Homo sapiens: one gene and its partners. The protein of the gene in region 2 purifies or fractionates together with the protein of the main gene of each other region. This does not show direct contact. Each region holds a gene or a part of one and is shown on either strand. Other genes may lie near its edges. The genes, in order: TXNDC11, OLFM1, TUBA3C and ASPH.

Evidence for each region.
Region 1: the proteins of OLFM1 (region 2) and TXNDC11 purify together in Homo sapiens (affinity purification with mass spectrometry, with the first as the bait; one large-scale study listed by BioGRID). This does not show direct contact.
Region 3: the proteins of OLFM1 (region 2) and TUBA3C purify together in Homo sapiens (affinity purification with mass spectrometry, with the first as the bait; 3 studies listed by BioGRID). This does not show direct contact.
Region 4: the proteins of OLFM1 (region 2) and ASPH purify together in Homo sapiens (affinity purification with mass spectrometry; 3 studies listed by BioGRID and IntAct, with this or other methods). This does not show direct contact.

What each region holds. Positions count from the first base shown.
Region 1 is NC_000016.10:11,731,000-11,736,412, reverse strand, and holds part of TXNDC11 (thioredoxin domain-containing protein 11), read left to right. Parts: intron 1-179; coding exon 180-396; intron 397-2,333; coding exon 2,334-2,431; intron 2,432-5,413. UniProt on the Homo sapiens protein: May act as a redox regulator involved in DUOX proteins folding. The interaction with DUOX1 and DUOX2 suggest that it belongs to a multiprotein complex constituting the thyroid H(2)O(2) generating system.
Region 2 is NC_000009.12:135,107,208-135,112,620, reverse strand, and holds part of OLFM1 (noelin isoform 4 precursor), read right to left. Parts: intron 1-5,413. UniProt on the Homo sapiens protein: Contributes to the regulation of axonal growth in the embryonic and adult central nervous system by inhibiting interactions between RTN4R and LINGO1. Inhibits RTN4R-mediated axon growth cone collapse.
Region 3 is NC_000013.11:19,173,272-19,176,048, reverse strand, and holds the end of TUBA3C (tubulin alpha-3C chain), read left to right. Parts: intron 1-1,889; coding exon 1,890-2,186; 3' UTR 2,187-2,277; downstream 2,278-2,777. UniProt on the Homo sapiens protein: Tubulin is the major constituent of microtubules, a cylinder consisting of laterally associated linear protofilaments composed of alpha- and beta-tubulin heterodimers.
Region 4 is NC_000008.11:61,518,313-61,523,725, reverse strand, and holds part of ASPH (aspartyl/asparaginyl beta-hydroxylase), read left to right. Parts: intron 1-5,413.

The DNA of each region.
Region 1 (5,413 bases), on a different chromosome or scaffold from region 2:
ACGTATTATTCATGTCTTGCATTTGCTCAGCCAGATGTTGCCTTTCTAGGGCAGTGATTTTGGGACTCCATTTTCTTATTCAAAAGAGGATTTTCCTTTTAAGCTTCATTCTACTTCCACAGAGCTATTTTTAGAAGAAGATAAACTAAGCAATCTTTTCTGTGTTTGCTCTTTTTTAGTCGAGCAAAAGATGTGATAATACCAGCAAAGCCACCTGTCAGCTTTTTCTCCTTGAGGTCTCCAGTCCTTGACCTCTTCCAGGGGCAGCTGGATTATGCAGAGTACGTTCGACGGGATTCAGAGGTGGTACTGCTCTTCTTCTATGCCCCTTGGTGTGGACAGTCCATCGCTGCCAGGGCAGAAATTGAGCAAGCAGCAAGTCGGCTTTCAGATCAGGTAATGCTCACATTCAGCTTAAGAATCAAATGACTGTCAGTCCTATATGTAGGGCAGGATGTCCCCACAGAGACACCTTGCCCAACGGGCAGACTTTGCCAAGGTGAACTCCAGGAGTCGTTTCTAAGTTACAGAGCTTTCTATAAAGCAACAGAAAGGATTTCCAATTGTGGCGATTGTACTCCAAGGCAAGTGTGGGAGCAGATTCTGAATCTCATAACACAAGCCAATGCTTATCCTGGGGTGCCATACTGTTTGGTTTCAGCATTGAAAAAGGTAGAGGGACTGAAAATCCTAGTTCTTGCATATCCATTTGATACTTGCTAGTTAGGTATTTTAGGTAAGAAAATGTATGTATGATATGACTGCATTGTAACAAGGCCGACCTTTTTAATATATGGACCAGAACTATATTCAGCAGATAAGGAATGCCACCTTTGGGCTAGGTAAGAAAGATATATAGGCAAATAAGTCACCTGTTATGGCAGTGGTTTTCAGCCCAGTGGACCCCAGTTGTGCTTTAGAAAATAAGTATTTTATGATGTCCCTTTTTCTTCCTAAAAAGGAATTCATAGATGATAAAGTTTTCCTATACATGTAATTTCAAAATAATCTAATGCACGGATTGTAACATAGAGGTGAGGGGGGAAGAAAGTAATTTGTAACTAAATGATATATATTTTAGTATGTAAGTGCACAGTCAGAACAGGTCCATATACCTTTATGTAGAATCACTGAATGGGATAGTTACAAACGTAGACTGATAAAGGTGATATGTTGGTGACTTACCTGCCACATGGACATTGCTCTTAGTAATTGATTATCCTAAATGGTGAACAGTCTTGGTAAAATCCTGAACTATGCAAAGCCCTTTCTGCTCTCAGTTTACATAGAAGTTGCATTCCTGAAAAATTCAGTGAACACAAAAAGCATGCTTTAGATTCACATGTAAAATGGAGCTAGGTACTGGGCTTTGATAATAACAGGTTTTCCCCAACATCAGTGTTTGGCAGGCGTTTTGAACTCCTCTGGAATGCTATGGACGACTCTTCCGTGTGCAAAGCAGGTTTGAGTGTAGCAGGACATCTACCAACACCCCTGCCCTACGTATGCACTGTAGCTTCCCCCAGTCATTGTAGCAAGCCAAAAGCATCCCACAGATTTCTAAGACTCTCCTGCTCAGAACCACTGATGTGAAGTAACGTGTGTAGGCAGCTGAGTTCCAGAAGTTCATTTGGAACTGTCATTTGGTTTTTCTTAGAAACTGTGGAGCCTTCCAAATTTAGAGAACAAAGTTCACGTTGCCCATGTTGGGCACAAGAGGGATATCTATTGTGTTTTATTAATAAGTGTGAATTAGCTACCTTACTGTCAGCCTAAGCAGTATGTCCTTCTGAGTGATGGCATTAGTATAATAATAATGATATTCTGGTGTGCCAGGCCCCATGCCAATTCTCAACCACTTTGCAAGGCGATGCTGTCAGCCCTGTTTTTCTGAAGCAGGACTGCAGGCATAAGGGGTGAAGCAGTTTGTTTACCATCACGTAGTGGTGGGGGTTGTAGTGCAATCCAGGGACTGCTGCTTTTTTTAAAAAAAAAATTTCAGCTCCTTCCAAATTGAGAGCTTACTATTCCATGTACTCAGTAGGGAAAAAAGTGGGTTTATTTTTGGAAACACACAGAAATCTTTTGAACTGTATTGCATGGTAAGATTGGTAAACACGGTCCAAGTCCTGCCTGGACATCATAGATAAGAGTATGTCTTTCTTTTTTGTTTTAGTGATAAATTATGACCTTTGAAAACTCAAAACAGTTTTTTTCATAGTTTCTGTTTCAGTGAGAGAGGAATCATTCTATTTTTAAATTTCATCTTTTAAATCTTGGTAACTTTTCAGTTGTTATTCATAGTCATTTGAAAACCTTTTTTGGCTCTGCAGGTGTTGTTTGTGGCAATTAACTGTTGGTGGAACCAGGGGAAATGCAGAAAACAGAAACACTTCTTTTATTTTCCTGTAATATATCTGTATCATCGGAGGTAAGAACTTTTTAAATAGCGTCTCTCATTCCAGTTTAGTTTGCCAGTTTATAAATGAATTTTGCATTTTTTCTATATTAAAGTATTAGATATTCACTATAGAAAATTCAGATAATACAGATAAGCAAAAATTAAAAAAGAAAGATCTGGATAATCCACCCCCCTTTTTAAAGCTAAACATGGGATCAGGCAGTAATACTATTTCCTAAACTGCTTTTCTCACTTTTTTGAGCATCTTTTCATGTCATTACACATTTTACAGCATTGTTTTTAAAAGTACGAATTACTCCAATGCATTTCAGATATCGTAAGAGTGTTTTGTAAAAATACACAAAATTTCTTATCGTTTCATCTGGAGGCATAGCAGAGTCCAGAGTGTATCTTACCATCTATTCTATTGGGAAGAAAATTACTACAAGTACACAGTCCCATGTCCACAATTCTTTTTTTTTTTTGAGACGGAGTCTCACTCTGTTGCCCAGGCTGGAGTGCAGTGGCGCGATCTCCGCTCACTGCAAGCTCGGCCTCCCGGATTCACGCCATTCTCCTGCCTCAGCCTCCCAAGTAGTTGGGACTACAGGCACCCACCTCCCTGCCCAGCTAATTTTTTTTGTATTTTTAGTAGAGACAGGGTTTTACCGCCCATGTCCACAATTCTAAAGTCACAAAGAGGGCTGAAAAACGGAAAGAGTTTTATTTTATCTTATTTTATTTTATTTTATTTTGAGACAGAGTTTAGCTTTTGTTGCCCAGGCTGGAGTGCAGTGGTGCAATCTCGGCTCACTGCAGCCTCCGCCTCAGGGTTCAAGCCGTTCTCCTGCCTCAGCCTCCCGAGTAGCTGGGATTACAGGTGCCTGCCACCACGCCCGGCTAATTTTTGTATTCTTAGTAGAGACGGGGTTTTACCATGTTGCCAGGCTGGTCTCGACCTAGGCTGTACTAGAGTACAGCCCAGACCCTGCTGTGAATGATAAGTAATGTCTAAAAATCTGACTCAAAGAGTTTTGGAGATAGGAGATAGGACTTTGGACTTTGTTCAGGGTGATTGGCTTGAAGTTTGTTGAAAGTAAAATGGGTAAAGGAGATTTGATCAGTAGAGAGCTTTCCTTTTTCCTTCTAAAGTTCTTGGGCCATAATCAATGGGGATTTATAGCAAACATGCACAAACAGTGATTTGTGGGTTCTCTGTCACATTCCATCCCATTTCCGTGTCTGTAACATAAACTGTTGTCTGGCACATAGTATTGACTCCCAGGAACTATTAGGTAGTATTTGGGCAAAAACACACTTTTCTACCCCATCTCTACCCCCACATTTTCCTCTGGATATTAGATGTTTGTATTTTAATATTTGTAGTAAGAAGCCAGTTTTTGCTTAGGGACCACTAAGACCATTTTCAGATTTCTTCCCCACTTTTTGGCCAGTAACTTGGAGGTTCTGCCTTTACATGGAAGGTTCAAGTACAGGTTTTTTCGGATACAGGAATACTTTCTCAGAGTTACTGTTTTTGTTTTAAAGGTAAGTGTAAGGTGGTGTACTTAACTCTGTGCTCTGTAACGGGATGGTGAGCTTGCCCTGCTGAGGTCCTTGCATTTCTTTTTGGCTTTGAAAAAAGGCATGGAAGCCTAGTGGGGGGGTGTAGTCCTTTCAGACTGCTCAGAGGTGGACATAACGTGATGTGACATTAAAATCAGAAGAGTTCCATGGAATCAAGTACAAGTGTCATTTTGGGATATGCAGGTATACAGTATTGTCATATATATACTATTTGCTTGCTTAGCTTTTGCAGAAAGATTGAAGGGACCTCAAAGGAACTTTAGAAATGTGTCCAACCTTCTTATTTTACAGATGAGGAATTTGAGGTGGTACGCACCTTGAAATGCCCGCCTCCACACCCCTGTCTTTGCATTGTTAGCTTTTACAAGTCACTAGAACCCTTGTAACATCACAACAGGAAAACTCATCAAAGCCTCTTGGCCTGAGTGGTTGAGGTTTCCAGATTGGTAGCTCCTTTTTCTGGAACAAAATAAGTTAGATGCTTTTTTGATTTCTTCCTTTAAATTAAAAATTATTGGTGGTTGATGGGGTTGGTGGTGGTGGTAATTTTTAAACGGAACTAATTTGTAGTAAGTCTTGATTTGGTAGAATTATTAACTGTGTCCCAGCTGTACATGTAGAGAACGCTGTTTTTCACTTTTTTTCATGCTAATATTCCTTTAACATCATTCTGCAGTGCACATGGAAGAATTGTGTTTATCCCATCACGTGTGTGTGTGTGTGTGTGTGTGTGTGTGAATTTCTGTAACCATGTATTATGGTATTATAATCACAGCCTTTATAAAATTCTTCACTGGGCTCTTGTTGCTGTTAACAGTAAGCTTAATGTCAATTTCTGTTTAGAGAAAAGAACGATTATGCAGTTGTTGAATTTCACCATAACCCCCCAACCCTTGCCACCTACCATCCAATTATATTTGGGCAGTGTCTGTATTGTGTGAGACTGAAGAGAGGCACGTGAGAATTCTGATTAGCTTAGGAGGATAACTGAATAGTGGTGGTATCACTTAGCGGCACTGAATCCAATTCTATGTGTCCCCAGGCACAACTGGAGGGGAAAGGAAGAAAGATTATTTAAACAGGTCACTGACTTCAGACCTTCACATAATTTGTTATTGTTGTAATAAAGCTTCAAATAGGTTTAAGGTTCATTCAGTGATCCTTTGTCTGCCTGTTTCTTTTTAGTAGGCCAAGGGCTGACTGTTCAACCTGTCCCTTACCTCACAGTGACTAGTAGAAGGAAAGTCTGCCCGCCTGCGTTGAATTGTATAGTTAAATCCTGGAATCCCTTAGCATGTGGTCAATTTCCAGGGTTGTCTCTCTGTTTTGTTTTTAAAAGAACTACTGTGGGAATTAATTTTTTTTTCAGAGATAAGAGTAAATGTTCCTTGTTTGGCAATTCAGTTTGCAGTTGAATTCAAGATC
Region 2 (5,413 bases):
CTGGGAGAATGGTGCCTGAAAGCAGGTGTGCATGGCTGGCTGGCCATCCTGCCCCAGGTCTTGGCTACACAGAGCCCCAAGGCTGGGCCCCAAGCTCCATCAAGGGCCACCATTCATCTCCTATTTTCCAGGTGCTGGGGACACAGGCCCTGTCCTCCCAAAGCTTCTGACCTCATGAGGGGCCATGGCTCCACGCAAAAATCCTCGTGCTGGAAGAATCTTGGGGTTCCCCAGGCATAGGAAGGGGAGACCAGAGAGAACATTCTGGGAACAGAAGGCCAGTGCAGCCTGGAGGGAACAGGGACCTTAGACAGCAGAGACCAGAGACTCTTCTGCAGGTGCCTCTCCCAACTGAGAGCCCCACAGGGCGGGTGGCCCCTGGTGCCGTCTTTCCATGGAGCCCTTTTGGCGATCAGCGGCCAGTGCATGTCCCTCCCTGACCTAACTGCTCTCCATTCACAGCTGGACGGGCTGCTGTGTGCCATGAGCTGAAACCTGGTGTATTAGAGCCACTGGTGCTGCCCCCACAACGTATGCTGAGAGCCCCCTGTGCAGGTGTGCCCTTTCTGATCATGACCCCAAGGAACAGAAGGTTAAGAATGTCCTGGCTGGGCGTGGTGGCTCACGCCTGTAATCCCAGCACTTTGGGAGGCCGATGTAGGTGGATCATGAGGTCAGGAGATGGAGATCATCCTGGCCAATGTGGTGAAACCCTGTCTCTACTAAAAAACACACAGAAAAAAAATAGCCGGAAGTGATGGCATGCGCCTGTAATCCCAGCTACTCGGGAGGCTGAGGCCTGGGAATTGCTTCAATTCGGGAGGCGGAGGTTGCAGTGAGCTGAGATTGCACCACTGCACTCCAGTCTGACGACAGAGCAAGACTCCGTCTCAAAAAAAAAGAATATCCTAAAGGTCACAGAGCTGGGAGGGGCAGCAGAGAGACGCAGACTCCAGTGTGGAGCAGCTCCGAACCTCTGTGCCCAGCTCTGAACCACGCCACCCACAGGGACCCCACACAGGAGCTCACTGGTGACATCTGATGTCCCCAAGCTCCGCAACACACCCACCCTCAGCACAGGCAGGAAAGTTCAGATTCCCAGCCCCGAGATCTAGGAAAAGCAGGGGGTCAGGGCTGGACTCAGGCCTCCTGGGGGTCGTGGAGGTCTCGCACACTGATCATCCTTCTCCAGTTCAATGGGCCATGCGCTACAGTCCCTGAGAGCCTGCGGCCAGACGGCGAGCGAGGCCACCCTGCCCCGAGCACAGCCTCACTCTAATTCGACGACACAGGCTGGAAGGCCCCAAGTTCCTGCCCAAATCCCCTCCCCAACCCATGAGGGTTTCTTTGCCGGAAAAGATAAAGCAACGGGTGGGTTCTTCCTTCTCACGCAAACACAAAATGCATTTGTAAATACCATGCTTTCAGGGGACCAGGCTTCTCCGAAACCGAGGCCCAACACAGCTTCCCATATAAGAAAAACTGGCTGTCTGAACCTCTGCACCGCATTTCAGCCACATGTGGTGCAGTTTACTGAGAACGTGGGATTTTCCTAACTGTCCCGATTACTTTCATCAGCTTCCCAGTGAAGAGGGCCTCTCGGTTCAGGGTAGAGCTGGACGATGGGCACAGATCTGGCACTGCCGTCCCAAATGCCTCTGATGCAGCCCCCGGGAAGTGGGAAGCGGATGCTATTTAAGGGGTCTTGGCGTAGGGACTTGGGCCCGCGCTGGCACTTCCCTTTGGTTTGGCAAGCATCTGTCACATGTCGTCCTGACAGAATTCCTAACATCAAGGAGCCTGGGCCGCTGGAAAAGACACTCTAAAGCGGCCCGTAGCTGAATGGGTGGTGGGAAAGAGGTGGGGGGGATGCTGGCAGTTTCTGCCGGAGGCTCCACTTGGGGAGTGAAGGCTGAAGGGGAACAGACAACGGTTCTCGGTCCTGGGAAGGTCCCTCCTCACACTGAGAAGTGACTGGAAGGGGCGTTGATGTTTATTGCACCACTGGCGGCGGGCGGATCACTGCCTGCACCCACACGGTTTTATGCATTTTGGATATTTCCACCTTCTGGAAAAAAAGATTCCGTGGGATCCTTATAAAATATCTAGATGGCCTTGACGCTGTTTAGATGATGGGAAAGGACTTTGAAACGCTAAGCTAAGCTTGCTGCTGTTTGTAAATGACAGTGTTTTCCTAATTATATCACCCCTTCAAACATGAACTTCCTGGGGTGGTGGGAGTAGCGCTGGCCCCCTTTTTGGTGTCTGGTGTCTGATGTGAGCTGACCTGAGACTTTTATAGGAAGCGGGTCAGAAAGGAGGAGGCAGATGTTGGGCTCTGGAAGGCAGGCCATGGTCAGAGCAGGCCAGAAGCCTCCGAGCTGGGGAAGGGGTCCCAGAACTCATGTGGTCTCCCAGTGGGTGGGAACACAGCCTGGCAGGGCATTCACGCATCAGGTTGAGAGCTGGCCAACCTCCACACAGCCCTTCCCTCCTCCAACACTGAGGCAATGGGACGGGCGGGAAGGAAAGGAGGGGCTGTGGGGCCCGGTGCCCTGGGAAGCGCAGGGGTGGCTTCCTGCTGAGAAGAACTTGGGGGCTCTCAGTGCTCAGCACAGGCCGGACATACAGTCAGTGCTTAATAAATGAATCCAGAAAGACCTGCTGCAAAGGCGTCCCAAGCTAACCTTGTTCTGACAGCTTAGCAAGGCCCTGAAGCTGGCTCAGGACCGTCCCTCCTGTGGTCACACGAACACAGAGATTCTGCAGGTCCCCCTGAGCCGGGCTCTCTACTAGGCAGCCCCATTGAACCTCTCCCCTCTGCCCTTGGCCACACCTGCCTTACAATGCCCTCCGTGGCAGCCTGCACTGAAGCCGACATTGATTTCTTTTTCTTTTTTTTTTGGAGCGAGTTATTGGGCTCCTGTGTGTGTGATCAAAACTGAATGGGAGATTGGAAAAGATCAAAACAAACAAACCACGGCTGGCCTAGATCAATGACAGGACCTGGGGACATGTCACTTAGCACACTGGGAGTTGGAGGCTGTGCTGAGCGTATGGCTTGGAATGGCCGTAGCCGAGGGTGCTCTGAGCAGGCTCCGGGTGGCTCCTCTGCCAGCCCCAGCACCCATCTCCCCCACCCCCTTGCCAGGGATCCCTTCTCCTGCGGCTTCTTCTCCCCACACTCTACCCACCATCAGAGCCTCTTTTCCTGGAGGGCGATCCAGTCATCAAGCAGAAAATAGATGCCTAATGATCAAAAGCATCCATCAGCACCGCGACAGCTTTGCAAACCCACACCCTCGCTGCGCTGTGCAAAGCAAACAGCCGGGGCTTCCAGGAGCCCCAGATCCTTGGTACCTAGAAAAACGATAACTTGACTAGTGCTCCCTACGACAAAGGAAGGTGATACAAAAACAGAAGTCAAGAGGCACACACGTGTGGCGTTAGATACAGACAGAGCAGTCCAGCCCTGGGGGGTGTAAGGTACAGACAAAGCAGTCCAGTCCTGGGGGGTGTTAGATACAGACAGAGCAGTCCAGCCCTGGGGTTGCCCTCTGCAGCAGGGAGGTGACTGCTTCCTGCTCACAGATCTCAATGTGGTCAGCGTGGGTTTGTGGGGTGGTTTTCCTGCTCTGCATAGTGGGGTGGGCCAGATTGCGGGGAGGTGTGGGAAGGGCACTTGTAGGGGGAGGGTGGTATAAGGGACTCGGCTTGGAGTGTCAGTGCATGCTGCAGACAGGCACTCCATGATCCTGAGACCCTTCTGCCTCTGGGCGTGAGAACAGTCTTGTCATCCACACTGAGATGCCAATGACCCCGACGCAGGCAGGTCCCAGGGAGGACAAAGCAGGAAGGGCACGCAGATGGCTGCATGAAGGCCCCGTCCTTCCCCCGCTATTAAGGGAGTTAATGCATGAAAAGAAAGTGCTTTGGACAGCACCTGCACACAGGACACACTCGCTGTTTTTTTTGTTTTTTTTTTTTTGAGACAGAGCCTCGCTCTATCACCCAGGCTGGAGTGCAGTAGCATGATCTCGGCTCACTGCAACCTCTGCCTCCCAGGTTCAAGCGATTCTTATGCCTCAGCCTCCGGAGTCGCTGGGATTACAGGTGCACGCCACCACGCCTGGCTAATTTTTGCATTTTTAGAGAGATGGGGTTTCACCTTGTTGGCCAGGATGGTCTCAAACTCCTGACTTCAGGTGATCCGCCCGCCTCAGCCTCCCAAAGTGCTGGGATTACAGGTGTGAGCCACTGTGCCCGGGCCTGCTTTCTAAGTGCCTGCCAGCATCACCTTGTTTTCTTCTGTATTATGATCATTACAAAAACATCTGTGGCAGGAGCAAGTTCCTAACTCTGAACATAAGTGGGGTTTTCCAGGTGGGATGTGGAATAAAAGAGTGGTCAGAGTCTTCACAGCTAATTAAATTGTTAGAAAACTTCCAAGCCTCAGCTGTCACAATTTAGAAAACAGGACAGAAAAACCTCCCTGACAAACACCCAACACCAATTGTATCCCGGCTCTGCAGTCTGGCCAGCCCTTCCAGATGGGGGCGGGGGCCACTCCCATGCGAGGCTGGGGGATCAAGACACATGCAACAGGCTCTAGCAAGTCTGCCAGTCCCCCTCCCCTCCCCAGCCATCTTCCTGGAAGGAAGGAGTGTGCCAGAGGCCGTACCGCCCATGTTTTAAATATAAGAGATTTCGTGGAAATGGTGGCAATGGTGAAGGAGGGAGGCAAAGAGATCAGAAATCAGAGGGGAGAGAGCTGGGTCCATCCCTTCCTTCAAACCCGCTCCAGATAAAGCTTAGAGGATCTCACATTTCAAAGGGCCTTTCTCAGTCGGCCCAGGGCAGAGCTGGGTTGTTTGTTTTTAAGTGTTTATTTTCTAAGTGTCCTGCAAACCCCTGAAGGAAGGGGTTGCTGGGTGAGAAATGCCCACTCTGGCAGCCAGAGGTCAGTTTGCAAATCAAGGGACAGCGAAGCCCTGACAGCTTCCCTCCCCCATCGAGAGCCTTCAGAGGGTGCTCACTTTGGAGGGAGTCTACAAGCCCATGCTGCCTGTATACAGGGGTCTGGGGCCCAGGGGCCGAGCGAGGCCGGGCCTCACCATCAGTCGGGCAGCCACCCTCACCTCCCCATTTTTCAAAGGGGCTCGAACATAAAACCCAGCCCCCCAGATAAAGGCAAATATGATGCCTGTTTCTCTCTCCTCTTCTGAGGTTTCACCCAGCGGGGAAAAGCCTGGGAAAAAAGAACATGGCCTCTTTCCTAAATCAAAAGGAACATGAGTCTCCATCAGCCATGAAAGGAATGGCAAATGAAATACAAATGAGATGTCATTAAAACAAGAAAGGCCTAATGAATTCTCTTCCTGAAGCAGATGCAAGGACCGGAAAAGTCAGGGCT
Region 3 (2,777 bases), on a different chromosome or scaffold from region 2:
AAAATTGGATGGGCATGGTGGCCCATGCCTATAATCCAGCACTTTGGGAGGCCAAGGCAGGCGGATCACCTGAGGTCAGGAGTTTGACACCAGCCTGGCCAACAGGGCAAAATCCCGTGTCTACTAAAAATACAAAAATTAGCCGGGTATGGTGGCGGGCACCTGTAATCCCAGCTACTGAGGAGGCTGAGGCAGGAGAATCACTGGGACCCAGGAGGTGGAGGTTGCAGTGAGAAGATATCACTCCACTGCACTCCAGCCTGGGTGACAGCACAAGACTCTGTCTCAAAAAAAGAAAAAAAGACAAGATCATACAAATTCTAGGCCTTACAGGTTACACGACCTCTGTCACACCTACCCCACTCTGCTGTCGGATAGCAAAATCAATCTGCAAATGAAGGGGTGTGGTGGCTGTGTTCAGACAAGATCTTACAAAATTAGGTGGCTAGTCCAGCAGCTGTGCTAACCCCTGAAGGAGAAGAAGAGACACCCACAGTAGGAAATCCCAGTCAGAACTGACTGCAGTGGTCTCCCCCAACAGAGACGGTGGGGGTCTGAGCCAGAGGCAGCAGGGAAAGCACAGCACAAGAACGCACAGGCCCAACAGAGAAATGCCACAAGATTTAGTAACCAACTATTGATAAAGCTGAAAGAGGACAGCAAGGTTTCTTTTGTGTCAGTGGAAGGTGGGGACAGATTTTGTGTCTGAGGCAAACCCAGGCCAAAATTACTAGGCTTCCCGGAAAAGAAATAAAGACGTTGCTGCTTTTTGTTTTGTTTTGTTTTGTTTTGTTTTTGAGACGGAGTCTTGCTGTGTCGCCCAGGCTGGAGTGCAGTGGCGTGATCTTGGCTCACTGCAAGCTCCGCCTCCTGGGTTCATGCCATTCTCCCGCCTCAGCCTCCCGAGTAGCTGGGACTACAGGCGCCCGCCACCACACCCGGCTAATTTTGTTTTTGTATTTTTAGTAGAGACCGGGTTTCACCATGTTAGCTAGGATGGTCTCGATCTCCTGACCTCGTGATCTGTCCACCTCGGCCTGCCAAAGTGCTGGGATTACAGGTGTGGGTCACCGTGCCCGGCCTTTTAATTTTTTTGAGACAGGGTCTTGCTCTGTCACCCAAGGAGTGGTAGGATCTCAGCTCATTGGAACCTCTGCCCTCCAGGCTCAAGCAATCCTCCCACCTCAGCCTCCTGAGTAGCTGGGACCACAGGTGCATGACACCATGCCCAGCTAATTTTTTTGTATTTTTGGTAGAGACAGGGTCTTGCCATACTGCCCAGGCTGGTCTCAAACTCAGTTCAAGAAATCCACCTTGGCCTCCCAAAGAGCTGGGATAATGGGTGTGAGCCACTGCACCTGTTGCTGTTTTCATCACAAACAACTCATTCTTTTTTTAAATCAAACCCTACATGAGACAGTGGAACGAATGATGTTGTGAAGCAGTTTATAGTAATGCCCAAGTTAAAATAAAATATATACACCACCTACAAGATTCCCCAAAATGCCCATAAAATTACTAAGTTCAACCTACCTTTTCCACATGAATTCTACCACCCAAGAAAGGGGCACAAAAATCCTTTAGAAAATACCTTATTCTTAAAAAAAAAAAAAAATGCTGGGCATGCTGCCTCATGACTGTAATCCTAGCACTTTGGGAGGCTGGGGTGGGTGGATCGATTGGGCCCAGGAGTTTGAGGCCAGCCTGGGCAACATATGTTGTCTGGAACTGTCACCCTGCCTGGCACAGAGAAGGGCTTAGTGACATTTGTGGGGTGAACTGAGAATTCTCCTGTTCACCTACAGGGTGTCTTCTTTTTGAGGAAAAGCAGCCACCATTTCCAGGTTTGATATAAGCTTCATGGACTGTTTCTTCCTCTTCTCCGGCAGGTGGGCATTAACTACCAGCCCCCCACGGTGGTCCCTGGGGGAGACCTGGCCAAGGTGCAGCGGGCTGTGTGCATGCTGAGCAACACCACGGCCATCGCGGAGGCCTGGGCTCGCCTGGACCATAAGTTCGATCTCATGTATGCCAAGCGGGCCTTTGTGCACTGGTACGTGGGAGAAGGCATGGAGGAGGGGGAGTTCTCTGAGGCCCGCGAGGACCTGGCAGCTCTGGAGAAGGATTATGAAGAGGTGGGCGTGGATTCCGTGGAAGCCGAGGCTGAAGAAGGTGAAGAATACTGAGGGGAGGGTGTGGTGGGTTCTCCACTCCACTGCCACCCCCAGCGTGGCTGCTTTCAAGTTCTTTGCAATTAAAGGTTCTGTATAAAACCAAGACCTCTGTGTATCGTACTGCCTAGCTTTGCCTGCAGGAGCAGGTGGGACCCCCAGAGCCTGCATGGACAGTGGTGGGGTGCCAGCCTGCCCTGCTAGCATGGAGTTGGGTGCAGCGGGATGGTACATACTTAAGGAGCTGCCACAGAAGTAACTTGACACGGAGAAATAGATTTCCTAAATTCTAGGAAAGCACAGTCAGGGTTTTCAACTGAATTTGCAACTTTGGGGGCTTTTCTATTGATGGGTGATGCGAGCTACAAAGAAGAGTCTAGACATGGAGTGTTTAAATCTGAGGTCTGTGGATGGGGCTTGTCCATGAAATCCCTAAAGCTGTGGGTCAAATGTGTAAGGTCAGGACATTTTAGAAGGGAAAGAGTGTTACTGTGTTCTGCACAGCATTCGTGACCCATAGAAGGTTACAACACACCCAGCCTTCCACAGTAACCTGGAAGACAGCATTTGCCCTCCGTGCACACACACGGCCACTCTGCCCCTCAG
Region 4 (5,413 bases), on a different chromosome or scaffold from region 2:
GATTTTTTAAAGTTCTTTATGGTCTTTGGTTTGTGATTCCATGCTTCTAGTGGGGGAATCCAGTAACTATTTTCTAGAAACAAATTCATAGTTTAAAGAATAAATTTGGGGCTCGGTGTGGTGGCTCATGACTGTAATCCCAACACTTTGGGAGGCCGAGGCAGGCAGATCATTTGAGGTCAGGAGTTCAAGACAAGCTTGACCAACACGGTGAAACCCCATCTCTGCCAAAAAGACAAAAAATTAGCTGGGCATAGTGGCACGTGCCTGTAATTCCAGCTACTCGGGAGGCTGAGGTAGGAGAATCACTTGAACCCAGGAGGCAGAGATTGCAGTGAGCCGAGATCATGCCACTGCACTCCAGCCTGGGCAACAGAGCGAGACTGTCAAAAAAAAAAAAAAAAAGAAAGAAAGAAAGAAAATAATAAGTGTGATGGCAAGTACTATCGTAGCTTATGCTGAAGCAGGATGGCATCCATGTCAGGTGCTGTGGTTCAGAAATAGAGGAGAAGAATTCTGGAGTGGAAGGGACAGGGGCGGACGTCATAGGGAGGGAGGTGAGTGACCAGTTTGCTTAGCCACATTGAGAACTCAGATTCAGAGAAAAAGGTGATGAATATCTGGCTCAGTAAAGATTTAGCCGTTGTCTAGTTAGCAAATCATGCTGCTGGGTAGTCGAATGCCTAAGGCTGATGCTGGAAGTTTTGGGAAGTAAAATTACGGTAGGTCTCTTCTATGGACTGAACTGTGTACCCCGCAAAATTCATATGTTGAAGCCCTAACCCCCAGTGTGACTGTATTTGGTGATAGGGCCTTTAAGGAGATAGTTAAGATTAAATGAGGTCATAAGGATGAGGCCCTGACCCAATATAACTGATTCCCTGATAAGAAGCGGAAGAAACACTGGGTGTGTTAGTCTGTTCTCACACTGCTATGAAGAAACACTAGGTAATTTATACCAAAAAGAGGTTTAATTGACACATAATTCCACATGACTGGGGAGGCCTCAGGAAACTTACAATCATGGTGGAAGGCACCTCTTCACAGGACAGCAGGAGAGAGAATAAGTACCAAGTGAAGGGGGAAGCCCCTTATAAAACCATCAGATCTCGTGAGAACTAACTCACTATCATGAGAACAGGATGGGGAAAACCACCCCCATGATTCAGTTATCTCCACCTGGTCCCTCCCATGACACATGGGGATTATGGGAACTATAATTCAAGATGAGATTTGGGTGGGGATGCAGCCAAACCATATCACTAGGGATGAGAAAATGACGTGTGAGGACACAAGAAGAAGGTGGCCACCTAGGAGCCAAGAAAAGAGGCCTCAGGAGAAACCAAGCCTGGCCACACCTTAATTTTGGACTTTCAGCCTCCAGAACTGTGAGAAAATACACTTCTGTTGTTTAAGCCACTCAGTCTGTGGTATTTGCTTGTGGCAGCCCTAGCGAACTGATACAGTATCCAAGTAGTTTCATTAGGACTGAACTATGTTTTTTTAAAGGACTGGCTTTTTAGAGTTGAAGGAAAAAACCAGAATCAGCAAATATAAATAATGATTTTGTTCCCCAAAAATAACTTTTTAAATTGTTATGTGAATATTATGGAACGTCTATTTTGCTCTTATCTTAATAAGTGCCACCAACAGTGATTAAAATATGCCACACATGTGCAGTCATTTTTTTCTTCCAGAGCCCATGGGAAAGGTGCTAACTGACCCCAACAGCCTTTCTGAATAAGCTGAGGCTGAACCTCTAAGTCCTTCTCAACGCAGTGTTCTAGGTGGCTGCTAGCAACTGATCAGAATTGTCATGCAAGATGGAACCTGTTGTTGCCCCAGAAGCAGAGCCTTGAAATTTATAAAAGATACAACCCAGGATATCAGTTCCATGAATAGCCCTCACAAAGTATATTCATGTGTAAGAAGTGATAAATTTAAATGATTCTTCCAGATTTGCATTGGCTGTTAGATCTCTTTCTAGAGCTATTTTCCCAAAGAAGCAAGGTTTATTACTTCTTGAGGGTTAGTTTAACGCTGGTGAGAAATAATCAAACGACAACAAAGCCACAGTGAGTTGCAGATGCTGGGCATTCCTCTTCAGGCTGAGTTAACTGGTTTGCTCCTGCACAGCTGCCTTCTAACTTACAATGCAACAAAATGAGAAATTATGCTTTAAAGCATAGGCTTTGGAAACCAACAATCCTAGGTTAGAGTCCTGGATGCACCGCTTGTTAGCTGTGTGATGTGTGCATGTCCCTGAATCTCTGAGCTTCAAATCCCTCATCTGAAAAATGGCAAATAGTGCCTCAAGTATGGGGTTGTTACTAGGATCAGTGAGCACTAGATGAAAGACTTGGCACAGTTATCCAATATATGATAGTAATATTATATTTTTATGGTCTAACAATAGCACATGATGTAATAACAGTAGTGGAGAGGTGGTCTCTGGTCTGGTTAAGAGCATGAACACTGGGTCCAGTCTGGCTGAATTGAAATTCCTGCTCTGCTGTTCGCTATGTGACCCCTCTGTGGCTCAATTGCCTTTCTATAAAATACAACACTAATTGAGCCTTCTTATGACATGTTGTAGACATCAAATGAGGCACTCTCATCATGCAGAGTGGTTCCTGGCCTGTCGTGAGCATCAAGGAACTGCCGTTGCATTCCTTGGACCCTCATGATCAGACGTGAAGAGTTAAAATGACCAGTGACAGTGCATGAATGCCCAGAGTCTACTGCACAGAGAATCTGGGTTTACAGACCAGAAAGATAAATGTGTCTAAAGAGCTAGAGGTGTTCTCTAATTCCTTGAAAATCTCAGGGACACAACCCATTTGGTTACCCATTCATCACCTGTCATTCAGGTAAGGCACATCTGTTCTCCAGGTAGCACATGCTCAGCCACCTGGTGCTTGTGAGAACTCCAGGCCACCTATGGTTGTTCCCCAAGCCACCAGTTTCACTTAACTGCTGCCTGGACAGCACAGAGCTCAGAATTGGGGACTCCTGCCAAGCAGCCCCAGGCCCTGCATACCAGAAGACTTGGAAAGCCCAGGCTCAAAAACACTTTACGGTGACTCGTAGGTTTATGTAATATTCACCCAAACTGACATTTATTGTTCATTTGGGGAACTCCATTAATAACTAAAAATAGCAATTAACATTTTATTCAATTAAGAGCCAAAAAGGTTACTTAGAAAAAGCTAAGTTGTTTTCTAAAACATTGAGCTCCATTTGATTGGGGTGAATACCTTTTAGTTGCGTTTTTTGTAACTCTTATTTTATTCTCAGTATGTGATTATCTTAGGACACAATTAACATTAATTAAATAAAATTAAACTCAGCTTTAGATGTAGCAGTCTCTTTTAGGAATCTTGAATAGGGAATTAAAATGTCTCTGACTTTTAAAAATCCCATTGTTTTACTCCCCCGTTAGAGCAGATGACATTGTGTACATTCTGAGCACATCTTCCCTAATAAGCAGGGGCTTTATAGAGTGTAAAGAAATTTGCATAGTTCAGGATACTTAAATGACATGTCCCAGAATCTGTGCTCTTGACAGTTAATCATAGAATATGTCCCCTCTCAAAGACGCCTTCTTCATTTAAATCCTATTCTTTATCATCATATAAAGGATGATCTGGATATGGAAAAGACATTGAAGTCCAATAAAAATAGTGTTTTGGCAACTAATATAGTCCTAGAAATGCATTTCTAAGTTAGAAATATAATATAAGCTATTTTCCTTCTTTAGGGGATGTATTAGTTTCCTGTGGCTGGTGTAACAAATTACCACAAAACTTAATAGCTTAAAACACAGACACATTTATTATCTTATAGTTCTAGAGGTCAGAAGTCTACAATAGATCACACTGAGCTAAAATACAAGTGTCACCAGGGCTGTATTCCCTCTGGAGTCTCCAGCTTCTAGAGGCTGCCCACATTCCCCGGCTTGTGGCCCCCTTCCATCTTCAGAGCCAGCAGTGGCCAGTCAAGTCTTTCTCATACTGTATCACTCTGACACTTACTCATCTGCCTCCTCCCACATTTAAGGATGCTGTGATTACCTTGGGCCCATCCAGGTAATCTTGGATAATCTCCCTATTTTAATGTGAGCTGATAAGAAATCTCAGTGCCACTTACAGCCTTAATTCCCTCTTGCATGAAAGACAACATATTCACAGGTTATGGGATGAGGGTATGGACATCTTTTGGGAGCTAACTATTATTTTTCCTGTCACAGGGGAAAAAATAAGTACAGTTGGCCTTTGAACAACGTGAATTTGAATGTTATGGGTCCGCTTATGTAAGAATTTTTGTCAATATATTGGAAATTTTTTTGAGATTTGTGGCAATCTGAAAAAAATTTGCAGATGAACCTTATAGCCTGGAAATATTTTTTAAAATTAAGAAAAATTAGGTATGTCATGAATGCATGAAATATATATAGGTACTAATCTATTGTATCATTTACTATATATATACAAATCTATTATAAAGAAATAAAATTTATCAACATATGCATGGAAGCACTTACAGACCATACATAGCACCATTCATAGTCAAGAGAAATGTAAACAAACATGAAGATGCAGTGTTAAATCATAACTCCATTAAATTAACTGTAGTACAGATTATACTACTGTAATAATTTCATAGCTGCTTCCTGTTGCTATTCGGCAAGCTCAAGTGTTTTCAGTATCTGCTTAAAATACCATGTGATACTGTCGTCTCCATGTGAGCAGTTCCTCTCTCTGGTAAATTGCATATCACGGTGAAAAGTGGTCTCTTATGGTTCTTGTGTATTTTTCCTTGTGTTTAATGCAATGCTGCAAACCTCGAATAACACCATGGGACCTATACAAAGAGCAACTAATGATGATGGACACGCTGCCAAGAAGCAGAGAAAAGTCATGACCCTACAAGAAAAAGTTGAATTGATTGATATGTACTGTAGATTAAGGTCTGTACCTGTAGTTGCAGGCCATTTCAGACATTCAATTCATCTTGTAAACAGATGATGTAAACTTATGGTATCGATAAAATACCGTACAGTACTGTAAAAGTATTTTCTCTTCCTTATTATTTTCTTAATACCATTTTCTTTTTTTCAGCTTACTTTAGTGTAAGACTATAGTATAGAATACATATAACATACAAAATATGTTAATCAACTATTTATGATATAGGGTAAGGCTTCCAGTCAACAGTAGGCTATTAGTTGTTAAGTTTTTGGGGAGTCAAAACTTAACATGCATGGAGGATCGAAGCCCCTAATCCCTGTGTTATTCAAGGTCAAAGGCCTTTAACCTGTGTCTTGTCTGTTAGACATTCTTAGTCAAATAGTCCAACACCGAGTGAAGAATTTGGATCCCTGCTCTGCCAGTCACTACCTATTGGAGCAAGA